Homo sapiens: one gene and its partners. The protein of the gene in region 4 purifies or fractionates together with the protein of the main gene of each other region. This does not show direct contact. Each region holds a gene or a part of one and is shown on either strand. Other genes may lie near its edges. The genes, in order: SP1, GSE1, SUDS3 and HDAC2.

What was found.
Region 1: the proteins of HDAC2 (region 4) and SP1 purify together in Homo sapiens (affinity purification with western blotting; 11 studies listed by BioGRID and IntAct, with this or other methods). This does not show direct contact.
Region 2: the proteins of HDAC2 (region 4) and GSE1 purify together in Homo sapiens (affinity purification with mass spectrometry; 5 studies listed by BioGRID and IntAct, with this or other methods). This does not show direct contact.
Region 3: the proteins of HDAC2 (region 4) and SUDS3 purify together in Homo sapiens (affinity purification with mass spectrometry; 5 studies listed by BioGRID and IntAct, with this or other methods). This does not show direct contact.

What each region holds. Positions count from the first base shown.
Region 1 is NC_000012.12:53,411,149-53,416,958, reverse strand, and holds the end of SP1 (transcription factor Sp1), read right to left. Parts: coding exon 5,719-5,810; 3' UTR 513-5,718; downstream 1-512. UniProt on the Homo sapiens protein: Transcription factor that can activate or repress transcription in response to physiological and pathological stimuli.
Region 2 is NC_000016.10:85,609,445-85,616,321, forward strand, and holds the start of GSE1 (genetic suppressor element 1), read left to right. Parts: upstream 1-3,877; 5' UTR 3,878-3,947; coding exon 3,948-3,954; exon of another isoform or gene 3,955-4,384; intron 4,385-6,086; exon of another isoform or gene 6,087-6,110; intron 6,111-6,129; exon of another isoform or gene 6,130-6,877.
Region 3 is NC_000012.12:118,372,597-118,379,593, reverse strand, and holds the start of SUDS3 (sin3 histone deacetylase corepressor complex component SDS3), read right to left. Parts: upstream 3,040-6,997; 5' UTR 2,903-3,039; coding exon 2,761-2,902; intron 1-2,760.
Region 4 is NC_000006.12:113,961,141-113,968,179, forward strand, and holds part of HDAC2 (histone deacetylase 2), read right to left. Parts: intron 1,255-7,039; exon of another isoform or gene 1,227-1,254; intron 1-1,226. UniProt on the Homo sapiens protein: Histone deacetylase that catalyzes the deacetylation of lysine residues on the N-terminal part of the core histones (H2A, H2B, H3 and H4).

The DNA of each region.
Region 1 (5,810 bases), on a different chromosome or scaffold from region 4:
TTTTTGTATTTTTAGTAGACAGTTTCACCGTGTTAGCCAGGATGGTCTCGATCTCCTGACCTCGTGATCCACCCACCTCAGCCTCCCAAAGTGCTGGGATTACAAGCGTGAGCCACCACACCTGGCCACGATGTCAGTTTCTTAATTTTGACAATGTACCATGGTAATATGTTAACAATGAGGGAAACGGGTAAGGATTATATGGAAACTCTGTTCTAGCTTTACAACTTTTCTGTAAATCTAAAATTATTCCAAAATAAAAAAGCATATGAGAAAAAAAATAAAGTTAGTGTTGCCTGTTTGTCTTGGTCCTCCACATTTCCGTGTAGTTGTGGCACATTGATCTGGTCATGAAACCATTTACCCGGGAGTTAAATATAGGGCAATTGCACTAATTAACATGTATGGAGCACAACACAGTGTAGCTGGAAACCTTTGTTAGGTTCAGAGTATGAAGTTACAAACGTACACTCTCACCATTCCCAACCCTCTTCAATACACCAGAGACATGGTTTTTTATTAAAAAACTTTTTAATTGGTTTACAAAGGAGGCTACAGACTACATTGAAACTAATCTTTGTACAAAAGGCCAAAAAAAAAAAAAAAAAAGTCCCAAAACACCAAGAGACAAAAGGTAGGAGGAAAGACAAGAAAGGAAGATACAAAAGGAGCAGGAAGAAACTTACTTAGGGACAAGATTAGCATCATACATACCTAAGAGTGGGGGGTGAGGGGGAAGAACAAGATGAGAGAGCATTTAAAAGCATTTACCCACACAGCCCTGGTGATAATTGGATTGGAATCAAAACAAACACAGCATGAGATTATTAAGAGGTTTTAAAAGGCAACAGTGGTGTGGACTGGTTATTGCCAGTGTTAAGAGAGAAATAAACTTGGGTTTTTAGGCACCAGAGATTGGAGCACCACCCATCCCTTCCAGAGGATGACAGACTTAGGAAGGGGAAGCAGGCCCTGGGGCAGCTGCCACTGGTGTGTGTAGATGTCTCCTCAGGTCAATCTCAGTGTATCTTCCCCGAAGTCTTTGTGCCCTAGACTCTAGGTAAGGGCTATGGGATTTCACTGGGAGAAAGGGATGATCAAAAATATGAAGACCTGCCCTTGTCCACAATGTTCAAGAGCAGTTACCGGGAAACTGGAGCACTGGGTAGACAGAGCCCATATCCCTGGGGAAAAGGCACAGTGTAATTCCTGAAGGCAAGATATGGGAAAGCACACATCCCAGCAGAGGTATCAACAAAATCCTCACTACTTGCAGCCCTAGTCTAATCCCATTTGTTAGGCTTTTTTTTTTTTTTTTTCCCCTGATACTTAGCTAGGACTTAGGGCAGTTGAGAGGCAGATCATCATGCCTCTACTTTCTTAGCAGAGACAAGGAAGACTGGGGCTGTTTGATAATGAGGAAGGGGAAAATGGGACAAAATACTCCTCTTTCAAATGAACACTGTGGAGAAAATCTTTCTGGGTTTGGGGAAGTCAGAGTAAAGACTTAGGGGAGTAATAAAGCCAGAGACCCCCCTTCTTTTCCTTTCCCTGCCTTGGATCTAAGGCAAGTGAGCCAAATTTGGAAGAGGGAGTAGGAATTTAAGCTTAAGGCTGCTTAATGTCTTCCTGGGGGCTGGTGTTTTGGGAAGGCAGACAAAGAGAAACAGGTCAACCTCAAAGCTGGTCTGCTCATCCTCTTAGAAGAGGTCTGGTATCTGTGGAGTAGAGCCAAGAGAGGCACCACAGAGAGCACAGTCTCCCAAACAGAAGTAATAACCGGCTCATATTTTATCAGCAGTTTTCAAAAGCAATGTTTTCCGGGGTTGGAGAAGTGCCATATCTTCCTCCCTTTCCCCAAAGCTACTGCTGCGACCTTTCTTTCATCCTTGTACATAAGTTACTGGCTCTCTTCTAAGGGAGATAAATTCTGAGATTTCACATTTTCCCTCTCAACCCCAATAGGCTACCCAGCTTCAGTGAGGGGGAAGGAGAGCTATGCAAAGGGCCCCTCACTTGAGGCAGCTAGACTGTCCTTATTTCCTTGGTACCTGATCTCCAAAACTCTTGATCTGATCCCAAGGTCCAAAAGGCATCAGGGTACTTACACTGAAAACTTCAAGCAAGTAGCACCAGGGCTCCCCCTAAGCATAACAGGGGCCTGATTAGCACCCCAGAAGAACCCCTCAAAAAGTATATAAATTTATTGCGTCCTAGCAAAGATCTGCAGCTTCCAGTATTCACACAATGTGAAGATATTAACAATACAAAATATATTTTGAAAGTCAAACACCTGTAGTTCATAGTGCTTTTTTAGATTTGTTAAAAAAAATACAATGCTTAGTTTCCTATATAGGATATACAAAAGCAAAAAATATATATGTATATAGTAGAAATAAATCAGCCATAGTAATTTACAGCTTTTGTCTCCAACCCTCCCCTAATCATAATCTTTATCCCACACTTCAGTATATACTTTCTGGGATCAAAGGATCAATTTATTCTGAACCAGGCTGAGAAATATCCATTAAATTGCATTCTGTGTAGCACCCACAGAGTGCCAGTTGGAAATCCCTGAAGGAAGACGGTGTGGGTTGTTACTGTTCTGGGTAAAAAGTGAGACAGTCAAATGACATGTAAATGAATATAAATGGGCAACCTGAAAACCTGAAAGGATGAGGGAATAAGTGTTTTACTATCTCACCACTCTTCTGGGCATCCCCTGCCCTGCAAGTTTTGGTCATCTAAAAAATTTAAAAAACTCATTCAAAAAAATGAAAAAAACTTAGGAAAAAAATTTCAGAATCAATATGCATGTCAGTTAAATTAATTTCTGTTAGCCAAAAGTTCAGGGAAACGGGGTTTTTCTGTAATAAGCTCCTGACTCAAGGAATGTAGGCTCCAAACTTCCTGTGGAAGAGACTGAGTGGCTCACTACTGCTGGGAGACAAAAGAAGCTGCTTCTGTTTTGAGGCCAAACAAGATACTGGATCTGGAGCTTCCTTGGTGTGAAGAGAACAGGGCAAGTGGAAATAATTAGATATAAATTCACTCATGGTAATGCTAATGAATAGGGTTGAGGGTAAACCAGCAGCTTTTCATTCGAGAAAGAAATACCATCAAATTACCTTCTAAAAGCTTATATCCTCAGCATCATTACATTATTTTATATCTGGTAATTTCATACTGGAGAAGATTCCATTCCTTGAAATGCACTAGCAAAATACTGTACATTCCAGTGAGTTATCCTGCCCCTTTCCTCCAAAAGATGCCAAAGTACATGATTACAGACATAAAATAACAGGTTCTGAGTTCTGCCTTTCAGTGAGAATAAAGGGTATGATAGTGGCTGTGCATGGATGACTTGTATCTCAGCGTTAATAGAATTTGATCTGGGGAAAGTTCCTTGCCATAGTTCCTGAGTTGAAAACATAATTACATCTGTGGAGAAAGGACCAAATGGAGTGAACTATTGTTTAGAGTATTAAGTTACTATAGTTCAGATTAAACAACACACTTACCCAAAACTTAATTTGGATGGATTTTATATAAAATATATAATAGAATCATACCATCATCTATTTGTAGCCAAAGTAAAAAGATTTATGAGAAGAATAAGGACTCTGCTATAGATCTGGATGTTGGTTTCACTTTCAAACACAAAAATAGTTTCTTTTTAAAAAAGTACAGTAGAATATCCTCCATTCATAATTGTAATTAATTTAGCATAAGCAAAGAAATGACCTTAGGAACATACCCAGGTTTTAAGATAGATTTCTAGGTAATGGGCCTGAAAGGCATTTTGATCTGAATTTATTTTCCAACGATTTCAAATATAATTTGTCATCTGTGTGTAGACATATACGGGCATGAACACACATTCACCCACACATACAAAAACACTTGCTTTCTATCAGATCAGGGTAATTTTTTTATTGCAGGTCTCTTTTAATATTGGCTAGCAGAAAACCTATCCCCAACCTAACAGATTACACACACACACACACACACACACACACACACACACAGAGCTATTTTTCCACACTTCCTCACAGTGAAAAGCTCTCTAACAAGATACCAGAAGGTCGAGAGAGACAATGCTTTTATGGCTGGGCCTTGAGGACAATTCTGGTTGCATTTAAATCTCAGTGCCAAATGCACTAGGTTCCCTGCCGTTATAATTTTTGGATCAGTCTCTTCTGAAATCAGGTCACAGAGAAAACAGGATGATTTCTCCCAATCTCTCCTATAAAACACTGTGGTAAGACAAGATTTCTTTTTGTTCTGGGCTATCATTCCCATGATCATGTGCTTCCCTTTCCCTTAGGAACCACCCAAGAACATACAAGGAAAAGTTAAGGGAAAACATCATAAGAACCACTGTCTTGCCACTAGCACATGCTTTGGAGGAGTTCTGCAGAATGGAAACCTGAAACAGATTCACTGGCTGATGCTCCTTATTGACAATGGAAAAGAACCTAGTGGGGATGTTCAAAAGAAGTGTATTTCCTTTCAGAATATAAACTCAGAAGCCCACACATCAAAACTTAGAGCTACCTTGGAAGACAGCAGTACCAAAGTCCAAATACTCCACTAACTCCTGAACCTGACTACGAGTCATTTCCTCTTCTGAGCACATGATTTTCCTAGTGAAAGCCCCCTACCTATTATTTGAAAATTTGACAGTTTATACAAACTGAGCCAAGATTATTATCTTCAAAGGGACTCTTGTACAATTCCACTGAAAGACTTCTAATTCTTGATGCTCAGAGCAGCTAATGAAGGGAGATGCCTTTGACTCTCCAGCGCCAAGAAGGTGCCTGCGTCAGTAGTATTTTGAACACTCCCTCCACAGTTACTTCAAGCATCAGCCTGGGCTTCAAGGATTTTTCCATTCTGCTGCTGGAACTAAGGTCCTGAAAAAATTGACAGAAGTGCCTCATCCAGGCAGTAACAAAAACAAAACATGAAGTGATCAGATGAGAGAAGATGAGACGGCAACAGTTGAGTTAGGGAAGGAGTGCAAGAAGCTGATCCCAAACAAAAAGACAAAATTAAGAAAGGAAAAACATTATGTATGTATATATGAACTAAAAGCAGAGCATATGAACGCTTAAGCTGGTGGGAAGCCAAGACAACATCTACAGAAAAGCTTGATGTGTCACAACAAGGCTCAGCCATAGGGAAATAAGGCAATATAAAAAAAATGACCAAGGTATTTTGGTCACAGAATGGTCTTCCTCCTCCCAGCCAACCCCTGTGAATGCATCTCTATATATCTTTATATATATATATATATATATAATAATATAGAATCTGTTTTTTGTTAAAAAGTATTTCAATGATCATATATATTTATCAAGGCATGATGGCTTTAGGAAAGGGGGGGGAATCCATCATGGAAGAGCTGAGAAGAGAAATGCAGGAAGGGTAGGCTGGGGTAAGAAGTGTAAGAAGAAACTGGGGTCAAACAAATGCTCATCAAAGCGTGGCACCAACAGAATTTTCACTAATGTTTCCCACCTTCAAAGAGGCACTGATGATACAGATGGGTGCCGGGACCCCATCTCCTCTCTTGTATCCCTCTCCTGATTCTTCTCAACACCATGCATTTTAATGCTTCATGGCTCTCTCTTCCATGTCTCTTGGACCCATGCTACCTTGCATCCCGGGGTTAAGGGGTATGGCCCATATGTCTCTGGCCCCGGGTGCCTGATCTCAGAAGCCATTGCCACTGATATTAATGGACTGCAGATCTGCCACCTGCATGACGTTGATGCCACTGTTGGCAAGACGGGCAATGCCCTCTG
Region 2 (6,877 bases), on a different chromosome or scaffold from region 4:
CAGTTTTGTTTCTGGAAAACCAAGTGTGAAACACAGCCCAGGGTTTAGTGTGTTTGTTGAGTGAAAAACCGCCCACCCTCTGTGGTTCAAGGCGTCCCTTTCTTTCTGGTGGATCCTCCTAGGACTCCCGTCTCCAGACACCCCTCTTAGTTCCTGAGCTCAGGGAGTAGGTTTAAGGTGTCTCATGTTCATCTGAGATGGAAAGCTTTCTTTTTTTTTTCCTCCTTTGAAACAGGGTCTCACTCTGTCGCCCAGGCTAGAGTGTAGTGGCACAATCTCAGCTCACTGCGACCTCTGCCTCCTGGGCTCAAGGGATCCTCCTACCTCACTTTCCCAAGTAGATGGGACTACAGGCACACGCCACCATGCAGGGCTAATTTTTTTTTGTTTTTAATAGAGACAGGGTTTTGCCATGTTGTCCAGGCCGGTCTCGAACTCCTGATCTCAAGCAATATGCCTATCTTGGCCCCCCCAAAGTGCTGGGATTACAGGCGTGAGCTACCATGCCCTTAGGAAAGCTTTTAAATTTTAAATCTCTTTTGTGGTGCAGGTCTAATAGGTTCCAGGGCTTGTGGAGGTAGGGCTAGAGTTTGCACCTAGGTGTCACTGAAGCAGGTACCTGAGGCAGGTGAGGGGCTGGGAGCCTGCCTTCCGCTCTTGGAGGCACAGTTTAGCTTGGCAGGGGCCTCAGGGTGTGAGCAAACGCGCACCAGGCACCAGCATCCTGTTGCCTTGGCACAAAGCACAGTCCGTGGTAAGGAGCACCGCGTGCAGCATCCCCAGGGCAGGTGTCCTGCTCTGGGAGGTGCCTCCGTAGGCCTGGCCCTGGCACCTACCTAGCTCCTTCCAGGCAAATGGGAGTGGAGGGTGGGAAGGAGGTCCAGGGAAAGAGAGCTGTGCCCAGGAAGGGCTCGCACTATCTGGGGGCGCGGGGCTGTGGGTAGGGCGCTGCTTAGGAAGAGAGAGGAGGAGGAGCAGGCCTGGAGGGAAATGGAGGGAGGCCAGCCTTAGCCCCAGTGCTGGGAAATTAGGAGTCAAGCGACAAACCTCGTTAGCGAGGAGCGCGCCGGCTGCAGGAGAGCAATTCCCACCCTTAAACTCGGAGGCCGTGCTCCGGATTACTAATTTCCGGGGGCCGGGCGCACTGACAGTGAGTGTCATCCATCTCCCCCTTGCCAGCCCGCCTGGTGGCCGCCAGCGTTTCCCGGCCAGGACTCACAGAGCGGCTCGCTGCTGCCCCCCGGCGGTTGCCGGGGTGTCCGGCAGCGCCTCGCTCCCCTAGGCCTACTGGGTTGGGAAGGGGAGTGACTTCCAGGTGTGAGCAGTTTGGGGCGCAGCTTGCATGTCACCTGTGTGCACATGATCTTGAGCAACTCAGGGCCTCAACTTCCTCATCTGTGAAACGGGACCAGACCACCCATCTCGCAATCCAGGGGAGCTAGATGTATACGCCGGAGGGATTGGCCGGCTCTAAAAAGCCGAGTGATGCACCTCCCAGTGGCCACTCCACACGTTTTTGTGGTTGGCCGTCGTGGTCCTGCTCAAACAGGTGGAGAAACCTAACCCCACCTTCACCCCTGGCCCAAGGGCCTCTCCAAGGAAGAAGGGAGTAGGTGGTGGCACCGTGTCCGGGTGAGAGACCTGGAGGTGGGGCCTAGGTGTCTACCCGGCCAGGTGCGAGAGGTTCATTTGCATGCTGTTCCCCTCCCCCCGCAGCTTGTAATCCAGGTGGGAAAGGGGTTGGGCCAGTCCCGGAGGTGAATTTTGTTTTTAAGGCTCGGGGCCAGTCGTCGTCCATTCCTTCCTAACACCTCCCTATCCTCCCCTCCCCCCGCCCGTGACTCCCAGTGGGGGTGGAGGCGCCCCTCCCCCTCCCCCTCCCCCTCCCAGCCCTGGCCGCCTGGGGCCGGGTGAATCCGCCGGCCAGTGCGGGTATAAATTACCCGGGCCCGCGCGGCCGAGCCACCGTGTGGTGCGTAAATTATAGCGTCCGGCCAAGGCCGCAAGGGGGGCGCCGCCGGTGAGCTGGCGGGTCGTGCGGGGAAGCAGCACCCCCGCGCCGTGCCAGGGCCGGCCAGCGTCCGCAGGTAGGAGCCAGTAACGGCCCGACCCGGCCTCGCCGGTCCGTTTCCCTTTTCGTTTGTGGTCTGCCCGGAGCCTTGTGCAAGGCGGGGGGCCGGCCCGCGTGCGCCCCCACCTCCGGGCCCCGGCGCGCGCTCGGTCGGAGGTCGAGCGGGGAGCGTGGGGCCTGAGGGAGCCCGCCAGACCCTGCCCCCCGGAGGGCACACAGGCTGGTTCTGCTCCCCGCTGGCGCGGGCCCCGAACGCTCTAGGCCCGCCAGCGTCATCGGGAACAGATGGATGGGGGGTGGCAGGCGCCCAGCGCTCGCTCCCGTCGCAATCCGGGCTGGCGCGGGGAGGGGGAGGGAGGAAGGCGGGGGAGGCGGGCTCGCGGGGACGGCAGCGTGCGCGCCTGCCAAGCCTGGCGCGGGCATGTCCCGGGGCAGGTTTGGGGCTGGCACGAGGGGGCTGAAAGTCGAAACCCGCACCGCAGCGCAGCGCTGGGGCGGCCGCCCAGGGGGTGCTGGTTTGCCCCAGGGCTCAGAAGTAGGGACGCGCTAGATCAGAGGGGTGTTGGAAGAGGATGAGGAGGGAGCGACCCCGGGGCCTCAGAGCCGCCCGGGGGGGTTACAGCCCAGGGCGCCAGAAGGCGGCAGGGGAGGCTCGCCGACCCCTGCCCCCGAGGCCCGCCCCTTTAACCCCGAGCTTCCTGGGGACGCGCCCGCCGCGATGGGGTGGGGGCGGGGCGGGGCGGGGCGGGGTGGGCGGAGCCGGGGGGTGGGAAGGCTGGGGCCTTCAGTCCCTCTCCGCGCCGCCTGTGGGTGCCCAGGAATTTCAGGACGCTCCCTGAGTCATTCCAGTCAAGTGCCTGGGTGAGGTAGGGTGGGGGGTGCCAGGAATGGGGAGGCGCTGCGCTGGGGCCAGAAGCGCAATGGGTCGTGCCAGTTTCTGGAGGCGGGCGACCTCGCCTCTGACCGCAACCCCAGCTACTTAATGATCCCCCTGGCGAAGCGGCGCCTCCGTGGGTTCTCCAGCCCCTGGGCCGCGGGTTCTTTAAAGAACACCCCCCGCAGCGGCCCGCAATTGTGGCCTTCCCAAAAGTTACTTAAAACTGGGGGGTGGGGTGCCTTATGGAATTTTGAGGCCAAGTTCTTAGTATTCAGCCTTTTCTAGTTGGGGTAATAAGGTCAGGCATGGGGGGGGTGGGGCTTGGGTACACAGTCTGTTTTGTGTCGCCTCCCCCCACCCCACGCGCCACCAGCGCCCAGAAAGTTGTTCTCCAAAAGGCCTCCAGGACACGGAGTTACCCGTCCGCCCATTATTGGGCCTGCTCTGTGTCAGGCACTGTTCTAGGTTCCCGGGACGCAGCTGCGAGACAGGGCTCCGCTCACGTGGCGAGGGTGCTGCACTACTTTAAGAGTTAAGTGGCCGGTCTTAGCCACCAAGGTCCCCGGGACCCCCGAGCAGTCCAGCCAGGGGCTCCCGAGAGTGTGGGGGTGGCACCTCCGCGGCCCCGCTGGTGTCCCCGGCTCACCTGGCCGGCCGGGCCGGGGAGGGGCGTGTGCCTGGGCGGGTGGATCCGGGCGCCCGTCGGTGCGCGCGCGCGCGCCTGTGTGTTTGCGGCTGAAACCCGACACCTCCCGCTGGCTGAGGTCAGGGAGCCGGGAGCGAGCCAGTGGCCCGGGAGTGGGCGGCGTTGCGTTTGGGTGTGTCCTCGGCGGCGACAGCAGCAGGTGTTTCTTGGCCGGGGCCCCGGAAGCTCCACCTCCCCAGCGGGCCCGAGCTGCCGCCGCCGAGCAGCCCCGGGTGAGATAAGCAGTTTAGACAAACACTGGGCGACGGTGGCTCCAGCATGTATCAGCCGAGGTGGAGCTGCGGGGCCCTGGCATGAAAGGTGAGCGCGCCGCACCCGGCCGGGGACGGGGTCCTCCCCCCTCCCCCCACCGCACTGTCCTCCTGCAAGTTCGCGGGTTTCGCGGGGGCGGCCGCCAACGGCTCCCGGGCAACTTCCCCGGAGTGTTAGCGGCGATAAGAGCCGGGAGGGCGGGCAGGCGACCAAAGGCCACCCCCTTCCTCCGCCCGCGGGTCGCAGCCTGGGAGGCCTGGCTGCGGGCGGGGACTCGGGGGCTCCGGGCTCAGGAGTGCGCTCAGCGGGGGATGGGGGGGGTGCGTTTAAGTGCGTGCGGGCTAGAGGGCAGGTAAAGTGGGGGGATGGGGGTGGCGGGGGGAGTCTCCGAGAGCTGCGGGCGCTGGAGAGCTGGAATGAAAACTTTGCGGCGACGCGGGAGGGAGCGAATGGGGGTGGCTGTGCGCCCCCGCGGCAGGTGCTGGCGACGGCCGAGGAAGCGGGGGTGTGGGGGGGGGGGGTGCTCGCTACTGGGGCCGCGCCGGTTAGGGTTCTTGTCTTGCTCCCCTCCCCCTCCCCGACCCCTTGTCTCGGGGGAGTTGGTCGGGAGGGCGGGACCGCAGCCTGCCGGGTTTGTGACCCCCACGCCCTGCTTCCCGAGGAAGGGCGCGCCCCGGGCTCGGCCGCTTCTCTCCTCTCTCTCCCCCCACCCCCGGCGGAGCGGCTCCCTGCCCCTCCCCTCCCCCCCGCAGAAGATGGCTGCCCCAGCCTCGGAGGTGGGAGAGGGATTGCACATCCGCCGCCCCCCACCCGCACTGGCCTTTTTCCCTCCCCGGCCCTTCCTGCTCCGCCTGGATGCGCCTCCCCGCCCCCAGCCCTCCCGGGCCCTGCGGCCGCGCTGATGGGCGGCGAGTGGCCCGACCGAGTGGAGCCGATTCAATTATATTGCAGCACCAGAGACACCTCCTCGGCCGCCCGCCCGCCTCTCTAGCAGGCTAATTAAATTCCCTTCATGGAGGCGGAGCGGGAGTGGAGCTCACCCTCCCTGCGCCCGCCCACCCCCAGCTTTCCGCCTCCCCTCCCCAGCGCCGGGTGGGGGACCAGGGGGGCACTTAGAAATGTGCGGTGGAGACTCGAGGCGCAGGCCATAGGGAGGGGGTTCCCAGATGGGGGGAAGGGACACCGCGACACCCTCATTAGATGGGGGAGTGGAGGCTGCGCCCTTTCCACGTGGTGGGCCGGGGGCCTGGCCGCAGTGCCCGTCTGAGTTCCGAGGGCAGCGTGCTGGCGGTGGGGGAGCACCTGCCGGGTTCCCAGCTGGGCGGTGGATGCCAGCCGGAGTTGAGTCGGTTTGGCTCTTACAAACTAGCCTTTGTACAAAGTGCGTTTAAAACACACTAAACCCTTGCTCCCCGCTGCGGTGCCTTATCTGGGGCCTGAGGGGTAGCGGCCACACAGGTTGGGGTTTGGAAACAAAAAGCGGGGCCACCAAATGGAAAGAGGGCTCCTTTTGTAAAAGGCGCCTGAACAAAAGGCCCAGCCGCACTCCGGGTGGAAGCGAACCCGCCTAAGCCGATTTCCAGGCGGCGGGGGACAAAGGGGCAGAGAGAAGGTCTTGGTGGGGGCGTTGTGAAATGTGCCCCCTGGTCGGCCGTCTCGTCCTCTCCTCTGGGATTCCGTGCTCCCGCCTCCCGGCAGGGGTGGAAGGGGGAACCCAGGTGAGCAGCCTTCCCTGGCCTCCCTCGGTGTTGCTTAAGCTTGGGGCACTTCAGTGTTGCTCACCCTGTGTTTACGGCCGCCTCCACCAGCAGGGACGGCAGAACCTGAGGCACAGGCTGTGCCTGACTCAGCCGCCACGCCACAGGTGAGGGGCCCAGGGCGCAGGCTCCGACGGCGAAGTGTGTCATCCCGGCCGCCGGCTGTGCAGGGAGTCGCCCCGCCCAGGTAGATTCAGGAGCGCTGGAAGAGGCCCTGGCCTGCGAGAGCAGCGACCTCGGTGCTTCCTAAGAGACTTTCCGAGACAGCCAGCCCCGTGTCGGCAGCGTTCCTGATCTCCTGCGGGCCGGGTGCGAGGATGGCTTTTGTCACTCTGGCAGCAGACACCAAAGTCAGGAGGGGAAGCTGGGGAAGCTGGAGCCAACCACGGTTTTGACGCTTGGAGTTTTCTTTCCTGGAGCCTTGGGGGCGGTGCCGGGCCAGAGCTGGTGAGAGCCCGCCAGGAGCCTCCGGTGACCTAGGGTCAGCCCTGCCTTGGGAAGGGAGGTCGGGAAGTCCTAGTTCTAGGCACAGTGAGGCTGAGCTCAAAACAAGGAAGGCAACAAGGTGTCCACTGTGGCGCAGGCTCTGAGCTGTTTGGGACAGTTTTTAGGATCTTGGAGTGTCAGAGTTCAAAGGGGCTTGTACATCTCCAAACTCGGTGTTTTAAAACTGCTGCTGGCCAGGCCTTTCCAAGCCCAGTTAAGCCACAGCCTCTGGGTTCCTGACCCGGGTCTGGGGGTTGTCAGAGCTCCCCAGCTGATCCTAACGTACACACTGGGGGTAGGAACAAGGGGCAAACTGAGGCTTGGGGCCAGGCGTGGGGCGGACACCGCGCTCACAGCAGGAAGCCTCCTCCGATGGCCCCGATGAGCCCTCCCCTCCAGCAGTCACTTCCCTGTCTCTGGGGGAAGTTCAGGGGCTGCAGATCTGAGTGCCTTGTGGTTTCAGAGCAGAAGCCAAGCCTGCCTGTGGGCTCAGCATCGCCGGCCCCAGGAAGAGCCAAGTCTGCACAGCGCCACTCTGTGGCAGACCGGGGTCCTGCACCTCTGAGCTAGAGATTCCCCCCTTCCAACCCCTGGAGTCCCAAATTCCCCTTGAGCCCCTGGAGCAGGTACTGTCTGTCCTCCCCTGCTCTGAAGGAGGCGGACTGGGGGGCCTTTGGGCTCGGAGCCCCGAGCTGAGGGGCAGGAGCTGGTGCCTCCCACTTTTCTGG
Region 3 (6,997 bases), on a different chromosome or scaffold from region 4:
TACATCAGGATACACGGTTGTCCCTCAGTATCCGTGGGGGAGTGGTTACTGCACCTCCCGTGGATACCAAAATCCTCAGCTGCTCAAGTCTCTGACAAAATGGCATAGTATTTGCATATAACCTACGCACATCTTCCAGTATACTTTTCTTTTTAATGAGACACAGTCTCACTCTGTCGCCCAGGCTGGAGTGCAGTGGCACAATCTCGGCTCACTGCAACCTCCACCTCCTGGGTTCAAGCGATTCTCCTGCCTCAGCTTCCCAAATAGCTGGGATTACAGGGGTGCACCACCACACCCGGCTACTTTTTGTATTTTTAGTAGAGATGAGGTTTCGCCACGTTGGCCAGGCTGGTCTCGAACTCCTGGCCTCAAGTGAACCACCTGCTTTCGCATTCCAAAGTGCTGGGATTACAGGCATGAGCCACTGCACCAGGCCAACAGTACACTTTAAATCATCTCTAGATTACTTAGAATATCCAGGCCAGGCATGGCAGCTCATGTCTGTAATCCCAGCACTTTGGAAGGCCAAAGCAGGAGAATCACCTGAGGACAGGAGTTCCAGACCAGCCTGGCCAACGTGGTGAAACCCCATCTCTACTAAAAACACAAAAATTAGGGCCAGGTGCAGTGGCTCACGCCTGTAATCCCAGCACTTTGGGAGGCAAAGGCAGGTGGATCACCTGAGGTCGGGAGTTCGAGACCAGCCTGACCAGCATGGAGAAACCACGTCTCTACTAAAAATACAAAATTAGCTGGGGGTGGCGGCACATGCCTGTAATCCCAGCTACTCAGGAGGCTGAGGCAGGAGAATTGCTTGAACTCGGGAGGCAGAGGTTGTGGTGAGCCGAGATCGCGCCATTGCACTCCACCCTGGGCAACAAGAGTGAAACTCCATCTCAAAAAAAAATAAAATAAACAAAACAACAAATAAAACCACAAAAATTAGCCAGGCATGGTGGCAGGTGCCAGTAATCCCAACTACTCCGGAGACTGAGGCAGGAGAACTGCTTGAACCCAGGAGATGGAAGTTGCAGTGAGCTGAGATCGTGACACTGCACACCAGCCTGGGTGAGTGAGTGAGACCCCATCTTAAAAAAAAAAAAAAAAAGATTACTTACAATATCCAATAAAATGTAAATACTATGTAAGTAGTTGTTACGCTACACTGTTTAGGAATAACAAAAAAAAAGTCTGCACATGTTCAGTACAGATCCAATTTTTTTCCTGAATATTTTTGAGCTGCGCTTGGTTGAATTCACAGATGCAGAACCCACAGATACGCAGAGCCAACTGTATACAATAAAAAAGGGGAATCTGACACAAATAAATATTTTCCAAGTTACAACTAAAGGGAACAAGGAGGAGGCCAGATGATCAAACGAAAACTGTTTCAGAACATCTTAAACATTGTTCTTAGAACAAGCTAATGGCTGGGGTGTGTACAAAATTTTAATAGCCCCTATACTGGAAGGAAAAAAAAACTCAATTTTGGCTCCACAGCGCCCCCTCGTGGGTATGAGATGAAGTGCAAGTGCTTCACATTCAAAATCTCTGGTTAAGCCGTGTCTTCTGATGGAATTAAATCGAATGCAGTCCCTCAACTTTGTATGTCATGCATATGCAGCTGTCTTTTGTAAGGCTGTTGCAGATCCAATTCCCCACAAACCCTTCTCCCCTCCTTCAGTCAAGAGGCCTTCCCTGAGTTCCTGTCATGGTCAGCCACATTACTTGGCACTCGGGAAACTCAGATGAATAAAACGTAGGCCCCATTCCAAACAGCTGGTCTAGCTTTTGCTCCACGGCCCGATTTTGTCCCAGAATATTCCGCTCATATATCGGTCTCTCTTTGTTTCCTATTTCTCCTCCCTTGATCTCTCACATTTCATCACCTTCCTCCTCCTCCATCCCTCCAAAATAGCGTTCCTCACACTTGCCAAATTATAAAGCCCAGTTTGAAAAGCAAGGCTCTGAGACTCTGTGATGACAGTGCAAAGAGCGTGGGACTGAAAACACAACACCTGGGGACCATTAAGCAAATCTCTCCCTCTCTTACCTGTTTCCGGGAGGGGGGCGGGTGGGGAGAACATTTACGGAGTATTTACAGTACCAGGCCAAGTACTTTATGCGCATGTCATTTAATCCCTATACCGACCCTAGGAAGTGCCTTCTAGGGCAGGTGTGGGAATTAAACAGCTCCATTACAGTTGGGTAAATCGAGGCTGGAAAACTTAAGTTTACAAAGCTGAGTTAAGTGACAAAGCCAAATTTAAACCTGTATCTGGCTGGTTCTAGGTCCCTTTCCTTTAACCAACCTGAGTTCTCAATAGTGTACTACCTAAAGTATAGATGACTTATGCATTTCGGGGGTGGGGAGGGGCAACTTTGGACTCTGATGCTCTCACACACAAAAAAGGGGCGAACTACACTCGATGTATTCAGTAAATGAGTTTCTAATTCCTACTAGTGAGTGAGGTTCAATCAGAAACGGCTGGGAGGGAGGACGGGGTCTTAAAGGGACCCCCAGCGTGACAACATCTAAGTCCCCTCTCCCCATCACGGTCGAGTGTAACGCACCCAGGGCTTCCCCGCTACTCCAGCACGGATGGGGGTAACTTCCCCGAGCCCCGCAACTCCCGGCGGCCCCTCCACGCAGCCCCAGGCCCCGGAGGCCGCCCCGCCCCTCTCCCGAACAGCCCCACCCCCTCCCCCAGCGGTCCCACCTCCGCTCCGGGCGGCCGGGCGAGCGGCAGGACTCACCTTCGTCCGACTCGCGGCCCCGACAGCTGCGCTCGTCGTCCTCGGCGCTCTCCAGCTCTTCATCCTCCTCGGGGTAGTACTCGGGGGCCGGCGGCGCTCCAGCCTGGGCCGGGGCCGGGGCCAGCAGCCCCGCGGCACTCATGTCGCCTCTGACCGCAGCTGAGCGTGGCCCACGGACACCGCGGCCACCCGCGCTCGGTACTCGCCGTCTGCCTAGCAGTGTCCGCGGCAGCCCCCAACTCGAGGACCGGCAGCCACGGCGACCCCTTCCCCGTCTCCGCCGAGCTCCGCCCCCCGCGCCCGCGCTCGGCAACGGGGGCCTCGCGCCGCGAGCGACTTCCGGGTCGAGAGCTGCCCGACAACGGCCTGATTCCGCCATCCTTGGGGGAGTGGAGATGCCGCTGGACGCCCCCGTCGCCACAACCTCAGCCCTTTCATCGCCGTCTTAAAATCCTCAACGTATAGTGGGGGAGGGGCGGAGCCAGGTTCGCTAGAGTCAGGCAAATCTACGGGCAGGCCCAGCAGCGGTCAGGACCCCGAGGCTCGCAGGCGACTTCCGGAGACAGCCGCCAGGCGGCGCCTGGAGCTAGAACTAAAGCGGTGATCGTTAGCGACCTAGGGGCGGAGGGTTTGAAGGGCCCTTGGCAGGTGGAGGTGGTCTCTAATTTAAGCAGGGAACGACGCGACCTGCCCCCTTATTAGGTCGGAAAACCTAGACGTCCAGAGTGTGCGTGATCATGCAGCCTGGCTCCTCCTGTGACTAGTTAGAGCTTTATTAAGAGCTAAAAGACAAGGATGCTGATATTCCATCCTGGGGACAGCAAAATAGTATTTTCCCAGCCCTTAGGAATCCTTTCTGTTTGTGTAAGGTTTATTCGGTAAGATGTTCCCCCGGTTTTACAAATGAGAAACGAGCTGTCGTTTGCCTAAAAAAAAATAGTAACGTCCAGTCTGATTTTTTAGACTCCGAGACCCAGGCCCTCCGCGGTACAGCTGCCTTGAATATTAATTTTTTAAAAGGTGCTTTTGCTTAATCCAACAGCTTGCTCTGAGCTCTCAACTGAAGAAGGGGAGAATTTGCCTACCAGAAGTTATTTGGCTAAGGCCCACGTGGAAGCTTAAAAAACAGGAGAGCTGAGTATCTGCAAGAATTAATTTGTGCGATTCCCTCTGAGTAGAAAAGGAACACGGTGTTATAAGTTTTGCTGAACGAATAGATTTAAGGTGTCCCTTTAGCTAAGAGCAATGTGGTCTAGTTGTGTGTAGCGAGAAAAAAGGGTAAGGTTTTTAATGGTTTGTCCAAAGTAGCCCCACTTTTATGTTCCACCCGAGTCTCCGTAGGAAACGCAACCAGTAGTGAAAATGAACAGATGTGAAAACCAGGGTGGAACCGAATATTCCCATTCTCAGACCTTTTGTGATTAAATTTATCTCTGAATTGTTCCCTATGGACTCTTCTGAAAATGAAACGTTATTCTCATCCCACTTATTTTGACATTTATTTACTACCTTGTTTTAATTAAAATCTTGGCTCTATTTGTAAGTGATTTTTTCTCCCAACAAAACTAAAGAATTTCCAGAATGGAATGCTAAGATGTCTTTCCAGGAGTTCTGAGATCTTCTGAAGCCCCTTCTAAATAAGAATCATTCTCAGATCGCACCGTAGGTCTGCCATCTATATTTAAACTAGGATTCCAGAACTGTCTCTTGTCCAAAAGATGAAGTCATTTTCTTTCTTTGTGCTGTTGGAGAACATCTAAATTACTTGCAATCAACTATATTGAGTAACTTGCGTTCCTGTCAGTAGCAGTAATCATAGTGCAGAAAAAGCAAAGATTTTAGAAATCAAGAGTTCATTGATACAATTAATTTTTAAGTTTATTTCGTTGCTAAATGGTTTCCTTTCAAGACGCTGAGATTTTTATCCTGCTTATGTTTTACTGCTGTCTTCTTGACTGCAAACAGCATCTGTTAATGGTCATGCATTTCTTTTTTATATGTAATGAATAGACACAACTGAGCACTTGGGTTATGAAAACTTACCCCATTTTTTTCTGTCCAGATTGCCAGCTGCAGAACTAAAAAATGCTCTTTAGTGAAGGTGGACCTACTCAAAAAAATTCTCTTATGGCTTTAGTCTTACCTAACCTTTAGATTTATTTAATATGATTTTGGACAGTCGCTATACTCCTGTAAAAATCAAGTTCCCTCAAAACCAAGTTTTACCACCTTGAAATCTTTTTATATATCCCTTCTCAAAACGGTACTCAGCCACACCGCTCAGGAACTCGACTTGACTTGAAACGAAGCCCTGCCAGCCCCATTTCCACAACTTCTTTGCTTCCAGGCCTTCTCTGCCTACCCTAACACCCAAACTGAAACTTTAAAGGGGGACATCACAATTGGAATGGAGTATGATTCTTTTTTTTCTTTTTCTTTTTTTCTTTTTTTGAGACGGAGTTTTGCTCTTTCACCCAGGCTGGAGTGAAGTGATGCGATCTCGACTCACTGCAACCTCCGCCTCCGGGTTCAAGTGATTCTCCTGCCTCAGCCTTTCTAGTAGCTGGGATTACAGGTGGGTGCCACCATGCCCGGCTAATTTTTGTATTTTTCGTACAGACGGGATTTCACCATGTTGGCCAGGCAGGTCTGGAACCCTTGACCTCAGGTGATGAATGGCGTATGATTCTTAAAACACTAGAAGAAACATGTATACTGTTTAGAACACAAACACATTTTGTCAGCTGGAGTTAAAAAGTTAACAATCGAGGGTTCTCTGAGAACTAAGGCCTGTATACATCTGACAAAACTTAGGATCAAAATGTGTTCCTGAGACAATTTCTTCATAAAATGCTAAATTCTAAAGTCCATAAACTTACTTTTGGCGTTAAGAGTAAGGAAAGCAGTTTTCTGTTTCCGGTGTTGATTTGATCAGCATATCCAGTTTCACAAAAATAACACAAATGGGTCTTAGTAGCATGATGCACTTTCACCCCTGGCAGGCACTATCCTTTAGCGTGGATCAAGAGGAGTCTCTGATTATCACATGTTAAACCTGGGTCAAAGCTCGTTATCCTTTGGCCACACGTTCACATAGAATCATTAAAACCTGTGGCCCTGGAAAAAGGTTATATTGAATAGCTTTGCTGAAACCTTGTTAAGCTAATAATAGGGTTCCCCTACCACAGTCTTCCTACTGTCATAAAAACCTACAAACTGAAAATTTCTAAAGCTTTGTCCTTGCACCTATCAAAATGTGCCCCGCATTGAACGCTTAGTTGGGCAAAGTATGCACCTAGTACTGTATATAGATTTTTTTTCCCCCAACGGTATCAAACTGACGGCTGCTGAACTCAATTCAAGGAGAGGCAACTCCCTTGCAAGAGATTTTAAAAAGAAATGGTTTAAATCCAGGAAATTTTTACAAATCCTGGGCAAATTAATGCTATATTAGTTCATGGCAGAATTACTAAGAAAGCTGTGCAAGGTCTAGCGAGAGACTGGGGTCCTCCCCAAAGGCTCTAACATGGTGGTCCCTGGGAATCTCCCAAGAAAAGTAAAGGCGTGGGGAGAAGCGCCATGAACTTTGACCGGAGAGCAGCACAAACAAGACTGACCGCACCCCAGGCGGGCCCGTAGGTTACTAAAGTTGCAAGGTCTTCCGCGTCTGAGGAGACCCCGCCCTGCCCTGTCCCGCCCATCGACAACTCCGCCAATCCTCGGGTTCCATCGACCGCTCGGCTTCCCAGGCTCCATCAATCAAATACCTATATACGGCCCCGGCCCTGTGCCCCGCGATCAGGGAAGGTCAGTAGAGAGCCTATTGGAGCCGAGCTTGGGGCGTGGTCCGGGGCAGGGGGCGGGCGGACTGAGACGGTGGGGCGGGGCGTGCTCGGCGCAGTCCGGTGCGATTGGCCACCCCTGGCAGGAGCCGCACCTCGGACAGCAGCAGCGGCGGCGGCCGCGGGAGGGTCCTTGTGGCGCCGGGCGGCGGGGTCCTGCGTGGAGAGTGGGACGCAACGCCGAGACCGCGAGCAGAGGCTGCGCACAGCCGGATCCGGCACTCAGCGACCGGACCCAAGGATCCGCCGGGGAACAAGCCACAGGAGAGCGACTCAGGAACAAGTGTGGGAGAGGAAGCGGCGGCGGCGGCGCCGGGCCCGGGGGTGGTGACAGCAGGTCTGAGGTGAGAGCACCGGGGCGCGGGGCATGACAGTGGGAGCCGAGGCGGCGGGAC
Region 4 (7,039 bases):
GGTTTGAAGTCTATCATTTCAACACGGGTTTATATATTACAATAAAAGCTAGAATAAAAAATGCAATTTATCCACTAAATCTTTCAAAGTCCTCCCTAAATACACCTTTTGTTTGTTTAATGGAAACAACCCCAAAAACTTTTTTGTCCTCTCTCCTACATATTTGATAACAGTACGGGATAAACAATCAGCTTTTACAAAATCCATGCTTCTAATAACATAAATACTTGATTTTGTTGGTATCACACCTCTAATTTTAGTTAACTTCATTTTCAGCACAGCTCTCTTCTGAAAACAATTCATATACAAAGTCTTTTAAAGGGAAAGCCACCTTTTTAATGCAGGTGCCAACAAGGCTAAGAAACAATATAGAGTTTAGCAAAGCAGGGCCATGGCCCTTTGCAACATTCCTCTGCAATTATAATTAAGAGGCTATGATTGCAGAAAATAAACTACCTATTAAGAAAGAATCTACCATAAAGCTCTACCTTACATGGTGACAATACAAGGGATATATAGTTCCTTGAAAGCAGCCTGGTCTCATCATTTCTTAGATATGGAAAACCCACTAGTGTTATTACAAAGCATCATGTAATTAAATTAATACAAGGGAAGGCATTTCTTAGTTATCACTACTAAAGAAATCATTAAAGTAAAAATAATGAAAGTCTAGTCTTCACTAGAAATGCAGATTCTATGAGGTTTCGTGGGATGACCCTGCCCATAATAATTTCCAATATCACCTAAAACAGAAAAGACACAAACTAAACAATAACTTCCATCTATCTGCCTCTGTGTAACAATTACCCAAATGAAATGTCTCTAACATCTACCACATCATAACATCAAATACTCTAGTTATTTGATGCACACTGAAAATCCAGTGAAAAGCCCCAGGCCCCAATAATTGGAGACTACAGTAGCAATTTCTGAGCAAGTGTGTTTGAAAAAAAAAAAAAGCAGTAATTAACACTTGTTGAGTGCTTACTAGAAGGCACTATTAAGTACTTCACATATCTTTTAATCTTGTCAATAACCTTATGATGTGGGTATTATTACATTATTCCTATTGTATAATAGTAAAGAAGGATGAGAAACAGACAAGTCAGGTATTATTGCCTAAGTCACATAGCCAGCAAGTGGAGGAGCTAGATTCAAACTCTGGCAGGGCAGCTCACAGCTAATGTTCTTAAGTAATAACAACAGGGAATGTCAAGGACACTTACAGATTCACTAGAAATGGCAGGGTGAAGGCTGAAAAAAAGACATAATATGAAATATAAATATTTTAAATAAAGGCTTAGGGTCTTGGTTAATTTAAAGAAAATGAACACAAGAAACTGTACCTAATATATCAGAGTAATTTACTTTTTACTAATAGGGTCCTCAAATCGTATACGAATACGCATAGCTTTCAACAAGTTTCTCTGTTGAAATTTAGGGACCCCAGTCCCACAAAGAATACACAAAGAACCTAAATGATACATGTATACAGGGCAGCCAAGCTACAGATAATTTTTTGGTTTACCAAGAATTCTTCTAGCTGGGCGTGGAGGCTCACACCCGTAATCCCAGTACTTCGGGAGGCCGAGGCGGGCAGATCACGAAGTCAAGAGATCGAGACCTTCCTGACAAACATTGTGAAACCCCGTCTCTACTAAAAATACAAAAAAAAAAGCCAGGTGTGGTGGCATGCGCCTGTAGTCCCAGCTGCTCAGGAGGCTGAGGCAGGAGAATCACTTGAACCCAGGAGGCGGAGGTTGCAGTGAGCCGAGATCGTGCCACTGCACTCCAGCCTGGGTGACAGAGCGAGACTCTGTATCAAAAAAAAAAAAAAAAAAGAATTCTTCTAAAATATAAAGGCGTTATAAAATAACCATCTCCAACTTTTTCCCACTAATTCTGTATCTCACAATTCTCTAGATGGCTACTTTGTAGGCATCCACTTTGTTTTCTTTTTGAGATGGAGTTTCGCTCTTGTCACCCAGGCTGGAGTGCGGTGATGTGATCTTGGCTCACTGCAACCTCCACCTCTGGGGTTCAAGCAATTCTCCTGCCTCAGCCTCCCAAGTAGCTGGGATTACAAGCGCCCACCACCATACCCGGCTAATTTTTGTATTTTTAGTAGTGACGGGGTATCTCCATATTTGCCAGGCTTGTCTCAAACTCCTGACCTCAGATGATCTGCCCGCCTCAGCCTCCCAAAGTGCTGGGATTACAGATGTGAGCCACTGTGCCCAGCCCACTTTTTCATAAAGTATAAAAAGGCTAAGAAGTTTTAAGACCCTACAATTTTTATTCATCATTTAAATGGTCAGTAATGTATTAATAATTTGGGCATTTTAAATGTTACTGATTTGCATCAAAATACAGATTATCCCTAATCCAAAAATTTGATATCCAAAATGTTCCAAAATCTGAACTGTTTTGAGCACCAACTTAATAGTCAAGGAAATGCTAACTGGAGCATGTCAAATTTTTGATTTTCGAATTAGGGATGCTAACTGGTAAATAATTACAAATATTGCAAAACCTCCCCAAATCTGAAATACTTCTGGTCCCAAGAATTCAGATAAAGGATATTCAACCTGTACATAAAAATACTTTACCAATGAAATAAACATTCAGAAAAATCAGCTCAAGGTGGTTCCTTGAACACAACAAACTTTAATTGTCAATGCAAAGAAATTACTGTAAAGAATTATTTATCTGCAAAATTTTACAAATTGCTCACTCTTCAAGAAACTAACAGAATGGAAGTGTCTACTAAGGTCCACAATCTCTTATCCATATTCCTTCAAATTAGATATGTTTCAAATTTTACACTTTTTCAGATTTTGTAGAGATAATATGGTACACCTGCCATATATTATGTAATAGCCTAGAGTTTGGGTGGCATGATATAATCAAACATTAATATTTCTACAGCAAAAAAGTGTGAATATTCACGGTATTCACAGAGGAATAAAGATCATAAATAGCCTCACATTGATTCAGGTTAAGATTTTGATTCCAAATGAGTTACCAAAATTTTTTTCAATTTTCAGGTCATTTTGGATTTCAGAACTGTGAAATGTACCTTTAGCCACAAAGATAAGTTGACTGCAAAAAGAGACTCAGGAAAAAAAAAACAAGAGAAAAGAAAAAAGTTTATTATTTTCATCTTCCAGACTACTTAGCCCACTATCCATTTTTTATACATATTAACACATCTTTAATACATATTTCAAGGAGGTTATTCCTCCTTGAGACATTCGGAGCCTTGGCTTCCATAATACCATTTTCTTGGGATTTTACTTGTACCCCAAGGCCACTCCTCCACCAACCTTTAAACATCAAGGGTTTTCAGTTCAGCCATTCATTTAATAAATCAAGAGCCTACCATGTGCCAAGCAGGTACTGTTCTAAGGGTTTGGGTTCATCAGTGAACAATAGTTCTGCCCTAAATTCTCTTCTCTCGGGAGTTAAGTCCTGGGACCAGTCGTCTGTCTATGCTGTATCTTTTTCAGTCTCAATACTTCACCTGATATAAGCTGAGAAATCCCAAATTTCTATGTCTAGACTCTCCTCTCTGGATTATAAACTCACAGAGGTTAACTCTCTTCTCAGTCTTTTCACTTGAATTCAATAAGGATCTCAAATATAAGATGTTCAAAACAGAGCTCTTTATTTGTATTCCCAATCTTAGTGAGTAGTACCACATACCACCTAACTGCTCAATCCAGAAACTTAGGAGTCATCCTTCATTCTCTAACACCATTCCTCAGCTCCAACTCCATTTCTAATCCATCAAAAAGTTCTATTGGTTTGAGGCCCAAATCTCTCTTAAATATGTCTATTTCTATCTAAAATGCAACCATTACATTTTATATGGACCAATATGTGTTCAATTCTTGCTTCCAGCCTATATTCCACAACTCCTTACCAATTATTTTGAGAGAATGCATTCTATTTGAGAAACTTTCAATGGCTTTCCACCTCTGGGTAAAGTCAAATTTCTTACTACACAGTTTTGTGCAGTCCCACTTTTTACTGCCTAACATGGGACTCCACATTTTCCTTGTCTTCCTTCCCATTAAGTGCACCAAGTTCTATTAATAACTATCTGGCTTTGCTATTTGTAATATCTTATGTAGTAAACTCTTTTTAAGGCTGGCCCATTCTCTTCCTTCAGGTCTTCCCTTTTCTGATTACACTATCAAAGGTCCCCTCTCTTTTACTTTTTTTGTTTTTTTTTTTGAGACAGAGTCTTGCTCTTGCCACCCACCCAGGCTGGAGTGCAATGGCATGATCTCGGCTCACTGCAACCTCTCTGCCTCCCGGGTTCAAGCGATTCTCCTGCCTCAGCCTCCCAAGTAGCTGGGATTACAGGCACCCGTCACCATGCCCAGCTAACTTTTTTTTGTATTTTTAGTAGAGAGAGGGTTTCGCCATGTTGGCCAGGCTGGTCTCAAACTCCTGACCTTGTGATCTGCCCGCCTCGGCTTCCCAAAGTGCTGGGATTATAGGCGTGAGCCACTGCACCCGGCCCCCTCTCTTACTTTATACCTGCAGTCTTTTATTTCCTTCTTAGGACTTGAGCAATCTTTTGTCTATTTGGCACACAGTAGGAACTTTAAGCCTATTTGATATGTCTGAACCCAAAGCTGGCTTAATGAACAAGTAACAATAAGCAGACTGCTACTGAAATACAGAGGAATAAGGCTTAATAACCAGTACAAAAAAATCCTTAGACTTGATTTGAATTCTTCCAAGTTTGAATTTATTAACATTCCCTAAGAGATGCCTTCTCCAATCCCAAGTGTTTTCCTTTAAGGACTTGTCAACAGAAGCATTTAAAGTTTTTGTTAAGGAGTTTTGTTTGTTTGGTAGCAGAGGAAACACTTTGAAAAGGAAAAAAGAAAAATAAAGATTCCGGATGTTGAACTCTCCTTGAACATTAAAACTACAGTCAGTGTGGAAAAGGAAAAGTGGTAGACTGCACCAAACAAATGTGAATCTGTTTTCATCTAAACAATACCAAAAATGCCAAAATGCCACCCATCCTACCTAAATGTAGTTCAGAGTAGTTTCAAGAATTAGAGGGAACGTTATATGAAAGCGTTCTATCTATAAGAATAAGGAATTGGCCAGGCACAGTGGCTCACGCCTGTAATCCCAGCACTTAGGGAGGCTGAGGTGGGTGGATCACCCCAGGTCAGGAGTTCGAGACCAGCCTGGCCAACATGGTAAAACCCCCATCTCTACTAAAAAATACAAAAATTAGCCAGGGGTGGTGGCACGTGCCTGTAATCTCAACTACTTGGGAGGCTGAGGCAAGAGAATCACTTGAACCCGGGAGGGTAGTGGAGGTTGCAGTGAGCTGGGATCACGCCACTGCACTCCAGCCTGGGCAATAAGAGCAAAATTCCATCTCAAAAAAAAAAAAAAAGTATAAGGAATTAATAATTTATTCATCACTAATTAAAAAAAAAAGCTACGTTTTTAAATGTAGTTGGCGAAGATACAAACACAAGCAAAACAGACAGACTGTCCTAATGAAGCTTATGTTATAGTGAGGAGAGAGACAAAAGTTATATGGTACAACCAAAAGGAAGAAAAATAAGGCAATAACAGGGACTTAGGTAATAGGAGAAAGCATCTCTGATGAGGTAAAATTTGAAAGAAAAGAGAGGCAAAAGATTTCTGGGGAAAGAGAAGTATAGGAAAATTTCAGTCTTATTTAGTCATGTTTTATTGTGCAATTAGTATTACTGGTATTTATGAACTGCTGCTATAATTAATTTAGCACTTATTTGCCTCCAAAGAAATTATTACCTATTTCACGGATAATAAAGATTTATACCACAGCTAAGAACCCATGTAGTTGTATTAAAGGTTATTCAGCAAAAGACTTTGGTACTACTCATAAATACAAGTCTAAGAAAATCTGACAATCGTTGGCTGCCAAGTAGAATTTCTATAATTTGCTGAAGAAGGAGTACGTTGGGAGGTATCATCTTGGTAACTTTTTTTTTTGAGACGGAGTTTCGCTCTTGTTGCCCATGGCACTATCTTGGCTCACTGCAACCTGCACCTCCTGGGTTCAAGCCATTCTCCTGCCTCAGCCTCCCGAGTAACTGGGACTACTGGTGCCTGCCACCACGCCTGGCTAATTTTTGTATTTTTAGTAGAGACGGGGTTTCGCCATGTTGGCCAGGCTCTTCTCAAACTCCCGACCTCAGGTGATTTGCCTGCCTCAGTCTCCCAAAGTGCTGAGATTATAGGCATGAGCCACCACACCTGGCCTAATCTTGATAACTTTTGTATTTATATAGTTTTATCTGTATACAGTCTTTGAGTGTTTTTTTCTGGACCACTTGTCTCCAAAACTGATTATGCATCCCTCTCAGAGGAGGAAAAAATAGAGCACAGAGAAATTTGTGTATAGTTACATAAATTAGGTATATAAACCCTATTATACTGTATACACCATAAAAACAAGCACTAAATATGTTTGGCCTCAAGATTAATTCAAAACAAAGCATAAACATGTCTAGATACAGTATTAAAAATGTGAGTGGTATAACTAGAGCCTAACACAGCTTAGCTGCTAATTATATTTAAGTAGAGAAAAATCACATCGTTTTAAGGCCCAGAAGGGATCTTAGTGACTATCTAATTAGCTGTATCATTTTACAGATTCTTGATGATCTTCTAGTGTATAAAGAAGGAACATGATTCAGAAGTATGTTTTTGGGAATTTGGAGGCATGGATCAATAGCTACAGTCAGAGAAGTAATAACTTCTCTTACTTTTCTTCAAAGGTTTAAGGATACCTAATCCATCAATGTCTGAAGGTTCCCTTGGGACCAACGTTTCAGTGACCTAAAGGGTTACCTGAAGATTACATAACGTGCAGAGAACAATATGTATATATTTAAAAGTTCTTTCATTAAGATGCAAACAGCCTCAGTGGCAGACATTCTGTGTGGCCAAGAGGCTCCGTGTGCCTAACAGCCCCAGGAAGCCTAAAGGTAGGATTCCTATGGTTATAGAA